Linked DNA regions of Homo sapiens. The protein of the gene in region 2 interacts with the protein of the main gene of each other region in a pairwise test. Each region holds a gene or a part of one and is shown on either strand. Other genes may lie near its edges.

The links.
Region 1: the proteins of LRRC25 (region 2) and FAM3C interact in binary tests that used the Homo sapiens proteins (3 or more experiments, as listed by UniProt).

What each region holds. Positions count from the first base shown.
Region 1 is NC_000007.14:121,389,662-121,393,311, forward strand, and holds part of FAM3C (protein FAM3C precursor), read right to left. Parts: intron 3,267-3,650; exon of another isoform or gene 3,207-3,266; intron 1,701-3,206; exon of another isoform or gene 1-1,700. UniProt on the Homo sapiens protein: May be involved in retinal laminar formation. Promotes epithelial to mesenchymal transition.
Region 2 is NC_000019.10:18,390,907-18,394,656, forward strand, and holds the end of LRRC25 (leucine-rich repeat-containing protein 25 precursor), read right to left. Parts: intron 1,220-3,750; coding exon 1,081-1,219; 3' UTR 231-1,080; downstream 1-230. UniProt on the Homo sapiens protein: Plays a role in the inhibition of RLR-mediated type I interferon signaling pathway by targeting RIGI for autophagic degradation.

The DNA.
Region 1 (3,650 bases), on a different chromosome or scaffold from region 2:
CTACCACTACTCAGTACAAGATGCTATGCGGCTGGTATATATGTGTATAATCACCTAGCTGGCATTAATGAGGGCTGTGGACTCTCTAACAGGAAAGTGGCAAAAAAAAAAAAAGGTAGACATCAAATGATTATGCCACACCTTACTATTTCAGTGGACTATAATTACAAAACAGGAATCACTGAAGTACAAGGAGGATAGAAATCAGACTTCTGAACTGAGCCAGCAACATCTAAATGACTGGAAATGAGTAGGATGAAATTAATATGGGGCCAAACTGGAGTCTATTACACCCCCATATACACCTAAGTTGCATTTTAAAACAAAGTCATCAGTACAATTTTCATTACAAATAGATGTCAACTAAGGACACCTTATATAAACTCCTCATTGCAATCAAATAATTTATATGGTAAAAGATCTGAAGAACTGTTGCTTTGTAATTTTTTAAAATCTCATATCTGCTATGCTTCATAATAACCTGTTAAGATAATAAGAGGAACCTCTGGTTGCCAGGCACTTAATACCCTATTTATTTTAACTAAACTCATTTTGCATCTTGCTTCCCTCATTTTAACTAAACTCAGGATAAGGCTTACAACCACATTTTTATTTCTTAGTAGTGAAACCACCATTGCAAAATTATAACTGAAATGGTGAAAAAGATCTGACCTAACCAACTCCATCTTGCTTCTAACCTCCAGGTTGTCCTTGTTCATTCCTGGGCATAGGCCATAACTTTGGGAGGAACTTAGTTTATAGTTTAAAACAAAGATGGTAACAGCCCTTTCCCAAAACAAACCTCCTTCTTGCCTGGGGACTAGACTGCCTTTGTAGGACTAACAAATTAGCCACAAGATTGGAAATTAGGGCTTAGGAGTCATGCAGCTGAAAGCTACCAGATTCTGACCCTTACCATCTGTGGCGTCATAGATTCAATGAAACATCATATGTTCTTTGAACCTCTTACTACAGGGTTACCTATAGCATGCACACCAGAATTACTAGTGTGTTTTTTAAAATGCAAACTCCTGAGCCAACTGCATACCTGGAGAATCAGAATCCCTAGGAGTGGGATTAAAGCTCTTGCATGTTTAATAAGCTCCCCAGATGACTGTCATTCGTGCTCAGATCTGAGAGCTTCAGATCTACAGCACACCAATCCACACACACAGGAAAGGCTGTGTGGGGCGGGGGGGGGGGGGGGGGGGAAGGTAAGGCAGATCTAAACCAAAAAAGTTCAAAAGTAAAATTCACATGACAAGATTTTTCATTCTTTCTGGAACAGTCAACCTGCCACCAGAATGGGTCTTCAGTTTTGGTGGGCAACAGATAAATCCAGAGAAAATGTGGTGAGGAATAAATAATCAAGAACTCCTGTTTGCAGGGGTTAAACCAGAGTACTAGATTTAATATTACTCAAATGTTTTCTTGCAGTTTTTATTATCTACCAAAGCAGAATTTTGCTTAAAAAGTTATAATCCACTTAACGAAATGAAATGGTGACTGGATTTCTGCAACCAAGACCACAAACATACCCAAAACAGAAAACAAGACAGAACTCTACAAAATGACATTCAGTTTTGCCTGCTATGAGTTCTACAATTGTTTAAACACTTGTGATCTAAGCTACCTTAATCCTATAGTACACCATCCAGGGAGAGATGGATAGATGAATGAATGGATGGACAGAAAGAAATAGCTATTCTTAGAAACAATGACAACAATAAAATGAAATATATTAACTGTTAGAGGTTGAACATAAATGGGGTAATGAAGTGTCCCACTCATAAACTGCTAAAATGAGATTAGAGAAAGGTACACATTTACATACAGTAGAACTGCTATCTTCATCTCATGTAACTATCTCACATTGTACTAGATGAGAAGTTATAGGTTCCTGTTCTACGTGTTTAAGAATTCCCTTAGGTATCCACTCTACTTATGCTGTTTTGAAGTAGTCTGCAGAATTTAAGTGCACCAGGGTAGACATAATTCCATCAGTCACACCCTCCAAATGAAGACATGGAGAAACAGAATGGTTCCATCGCCCAAGGGTCCTGGATGAAATGCAGTATTGGCACACCATTTGTACCACAAAAACTGAATGAGAATTAGCACTGCTGAAGTAAATTAAAATGGAAACCATGCCTGAAGAATCCCCGAGCAGACAAAACCAATTAGGCCTCATAAGTGACATCAACCTCACTTGATTTGCAAACATAAGCAAAATATGAAGTTACTTCTTATAAATGCCTATGCTAAAGAAAAAGAGAACTTAAGCTTAATCAATCAGAAACATCCAACAAACTTCTAATTACATATCTAGGGGACCTTCCAACACGACAGACCAAATAAAACAACTGTATAACTGCAGCCAATCAAATATTTTCTTTGCTTTACATCTGTGACCCTCCTATAAAAGCCTCCCTCCTGGATTCCCCTGGTGGAGCTCCCAGATCTGGTTTGGAGCTGCTCAATTCATGAATTGTTTGTTCAAATAAACTCTAAAGATGCTTCTATTGTAAAATTTTGTGAAAACGTATTGTATTAGTCCGTTTTTGCACTGTTATAAAGAAATACCCAAGACTGGGTAACCTATAAAGGAAAGAAGTTTAACTGACTCACAGTCCCACATGGCTGGGGAGGTGTCAGGAAACTTACAATCATGGAGGAAGGCTAAGGGGAAACAGACACCTTTTTCACAAGGCAGCAGGAGAGAGAAGAGAGAGAGTGCAGGAAAAACTTCCATTTGTAAAACCATCAGATCTTGTAAGAACTCACTGTCACGAGAACAACATGGGGGAAGCCGCCCTCATGATGCAATCACTTCCCTCCCTCGACACACAGGGATTACAATTTGAGATGAGATTTGAGTGGGGACGCAGAACCAAACCACACCACGTATCAACTGAACCAACTTAAAAATCCATTTTTGTTGACCTTGCGTCTTTCAAAACTCATTTAACAATCACTTAACTGCAAGTAATGAATGATATGTTAGGTAGCACACCTGACACCATAACACTACCTTAGCAAGCCTTGTAGAGATTATGACGAAAATCAATTTAGAGATGTTCATATAACTTTCTGAATAGCACACAAAAATTTAACAAATGAATAAACAAAATGCAGTACGTATCAACGAAATGATATATATGTAATGTGGTGTATATGAATGGAATATAGAATGGAATATTACTCACCCTTAAAAAGGAATGAAGTACTGATACCTGCTGATTTAGAGGACGAACCTCTAAAACATGCTAAGTGAAAGAAGCCAGACACAAAAGAACACATATTGAATTATTCAATTTTTAGGAAAATCCAGAATAGATAAATTTATGGGGGCAGAAAGCAGATCAGTGGTTGCCGAGGATTGGCAGGGAGAAGGGAATGAACAACTGCTTAATGAATATGGGGTTTCCTTTTGGGGTGATGAAAATGTTTTAGAAACGTGACGGTTCATAACATCATGAACGTGCTAAATGCCACACTTTAAAATGGAAAATCTGGCTAGGCATAGGGGCTCATGTCTGTAATCCCAGAGCTTTGGGAGGCTGAGGTCGAAGGATCACCTGAGGGCAGATTTGGCCAGCCTGTGCAAAATAGTAAGATCCCGTCTTTTAAGAAAAAAAATTATAAAATTA
Region 2 (3,750 bases):
CCCAGGCTTGATCTCCCAGGACTGAGGGTACTTGTCTCTAGTTCTATCTCCCCCAGGTTGGAGGATTGGGCTGGGACCAGCTGATAGGAAACCCAGTTGAGGCATGAGCCTGAAAAAACTCTTGAAATACAGACATCTGTGAGTCATTAACTCTGCCTGAGAAGAAACCAGGGACAGCTTCTCAAAGGAGGTGGCATTGCACCAGGGTCTTGAAAGATTTTCTCAGAATATTAGAGCTAAAGGAATATATACATTTTTTTATTTTGGGGTTGGTGTGGGCTGCTCTGGAGGCCAAGCCTGGAGATCAGGGACCTGGGAAGGGGCCCTGAGAGGGGCAGAAGGGAGGAATGTGCCTGGGCGCAGTGGCCACGCCTGTAATCCCAGCACTTCAGGAGGCCGAGGCGGGCAGATCGCTTGAGGTCAGGAGTTCGAGACCAGCCTGGCCAACATGGCGAAACCCCATCTCTATTATAAATACAAAAATTAGCTCGGCATGGTGGCGGGTGCTGTAATCCCAGCTACTCAGGAGGCTGAGGCAGGAGAATCACTTGAACCCAGGAGGCGGAGGTTGCAGTGAGCTGAGACCGCAGCATTGCACTCCAGCCTGGGTGACAGAGTGACACTCAGTTTCAAAAACAAACAAACAAACAACAACAACAAAAAAAAACAGGGATGGGAGGTGGGGAGCAATTTGGGAGTCTCAGATGGAGACTTGGTCTTAGAACTCAGAAATCCCCACCTTGAGGAACCCACGCACCCTGAGCCAGCAGCCTCATCAGCCTCGAAGCATTTATTGAGCACTGCCTGTACATCCACAGGAGGGTGATGACAGGATTGGCACAGTGACCGTCCTGTCCCCTTGTTGGGGGTCTCTCCTCTTCCCCCTCTAGGAGCTGAGGGAGCTGAGGAGCGGCATGAGGGACAGGGAGGGGGCGGCAGAGCTTCCTGGGGCCTCAAGGACAATCCTTTCCTGTACCCATTCTTCAGATGGGGAAACTGAGGCCATGGAGGCGTTAGGACGCCCTGAGTCACCCAGCAGGGACTGAAGGGGTTCTGGGTGGAGGTTAGGACATCTTAGGCTCAGTGCCCGGGGATCACGTACTCCTCTTCATCCATTGGGGCCTGGCCCAGTGACTGCAGGTTACAGTAGACAGGCTGGGAAGCCAGGTCGATGTCCTTGTAGTTGATGTAAAAGTCATTGTCCTCTGAAGGGTGAGCCCTGGGGGGACAGACAGACCAGGGGTAAGTGTGGGAGGGGGAGGACTCAGGGGACAGGCACATGAGCTTTGAGAAAGTCCAGAGTGGGCCAGGTGCTCTGACTCACGCCTGTAATCCAGCACTTTGGGAGGCTGAGGTGGGTGGATCACCTGAGATCATGAGTTCAAGACCAGCCTGGACAACATGATGAAACCTCGTCTCTACTAAAAATACAAAAATTATCCAGGCATGGTGGCACAGGCCTGTAGTCCCAGCTACTCGGGAGTCTGAGGCAGGAGAATCACTTGAACCCAGGAGGTAGAGGTTGTAGTGAGCCGAGATCGTGCCATTGCACTTCAGCCTGGGAGACAGAGCAAGACTCTATCTCAGAAGGAAAAAAAAAAAGAAAGCTTCAGAGTGGCTCAGTCCACCCCGAATATTTACATATGGGGAAACTGGCACGGGCTAGCGTTCTGACTCCTAGCCAACCCCACCTCTCTCTGAGGAGGCTGCGGGAGGGCAGTGATTTAGGGAAGGTTCTGTGGGTGTAACGCTGCGGTCTGAGGACCCTGAACCCTTTTTCCTTCCTTAAAAATGAGATAGCGGCCAGGCGCGGTGACTCATGCCTGTAATCCCAGCACTTTGGGAGGCCAAGGCAGAAGGTCTGCTTGAGGCCAGGAGTTTGAGACCATCCTGAGCAACAGGGTGAGACCCCATCTCTACAAAAAATTAAAAAATTATTCAGGCGTGGTGACGTGTGCCTGGAGTCCCATCTCCTCGGGAGGCTGAGGTGGGAGGACCGCTTGAGCCCAGGAGGTCGAGCCTACAGTGAGCCGTTATCACACCACTGCACTGCAGCCTGGATGACAGAGGGAGACCCCGTCTCAAAAAAAACAGAAATTGAGGTAGCTGTTCATTATTACATTAAAATCTAAATTTTTGTTTCCTCTTGAAAAATCGGAAGCTCTGGCCACGTCAGTCACATGCACACAAGTGGCTGCACCCACACTCTGTGCTCCTTCCGATGGGAAATGTTTTCACCACTGAAGCAACTGACTTTGTGGCCCTCATATATAAAAGCAAGTCTCTGAGCCTCAGTTTCTGCATCTATAGAATTGGTCAAGGAGCAGGTAGCTACTTAGGAATATTTGTTATGGTCAGCAAGACCTCCAGAGAATTTTCCTGCCTCCTGAACATTCTAATTCCAACCCAGCTCCTCTTGTAAAAAGGGCCACTGGGCCAGGTGCGGTGGCTCACGCCTATAATCCCAGCACTTTGAGAGGCCAAGGTGGGCAGATCACCTGAGGTCAGGAGTTCAAGACCAGCCTGGCCAACATGGCAAAACCCCGTCTCTACTAAAATTAGCCGGGTGTGATGGTGGGCGCCTGTAATCCCAGCTACTCGGGAGGCTGAGGCAGGAGGCAGGAGAATCACTTGAACCCGGGAGGTGAAGGTTGCAGTGAGCCGAGATCATGCCATTGCACTCTAGCCTGGGCGACAGAGCGGGAAAAAAAAAAAGGCAAAAGGGCTACTTTGTGTTAACAGCATCTATCAGTCAATTATACTCTAGTACGAATTGCCCACCAACCCCTAAGTGGTTGTAGGGGGACGAACAGGTCTGGGACGCAGGGTTTGTGTCCTGCCTTTTTTGACTGGCTATGTGACCTTGGACAAGTCATTTCCCTGCCTCCCAGAGCCTCCATGTCTGTAACTGTAAGATGCAGGGTGGAAATGACACAGTCAATTCTAAACACAGTGTTTCTGGAGGCCAGTACATAAAGGAGGCTGATCCGGAAGCCTCGGGGACAGGGAGGCCAAGATGAACATCAGAGCACAAGCTGCTTTTGCGAGTCCAGTGTCTTCAACACCCTGCCTCAGACCATTTCTGCTTTTGAGCCATGTTGACATCTGCTTTGCATATTTTCTCCTTTCTCACCAACAGCCTTCCGATAGCCTCCCCACCTCCTGGCACGGACTCTGCTGCCCAAACACAGCCATGGCCGCGGCCCCTTCCTGCTTGGCCCTCCCTGTTCCCCTCAGGCCTCAGCTTTCAAGTCATCCCTTCTCAAAAACCATTCACAGCAAATTCTCTGTTCTTTCCCACCTCTGGGTCTCTGCCCCTGAGGGTCCCACCCCTTGAAATTCCCTCCATTCCCTTTTCCAACCTAGAAAAGCTTTTCTTTTCTTTTTTTCTTTCTTTCTTTCTTTTTTTTTTTTTTTGAGACGGAGTCTCGCTCTGTCGCCCAGGCTGGGGTGCAGTGGTGCGATCTGGGCTCACTGCAACCTCCACCTCCTGGGTTCAAGTGATTCTTCTTGCCTCAGCCTCCCAAGTAGCTGGGATTACAGGCACCCACGACCATGCCCGGCTAATTTTTGTATTTTTAGTAGAGACAGGGTTTCACCATATTGGCCAGGCTGGTCTCGAACTCCTGACCTCGTGATCCTCCTGCCTTGGCCTCCCAAAGTGTTGGGATTACAGGCATGAGCCACCGTGCCCGGCCTAATTTTTGTATTTTTTAGTAGAAACAGGGTTCCACCATGTTGGTCAGGCTG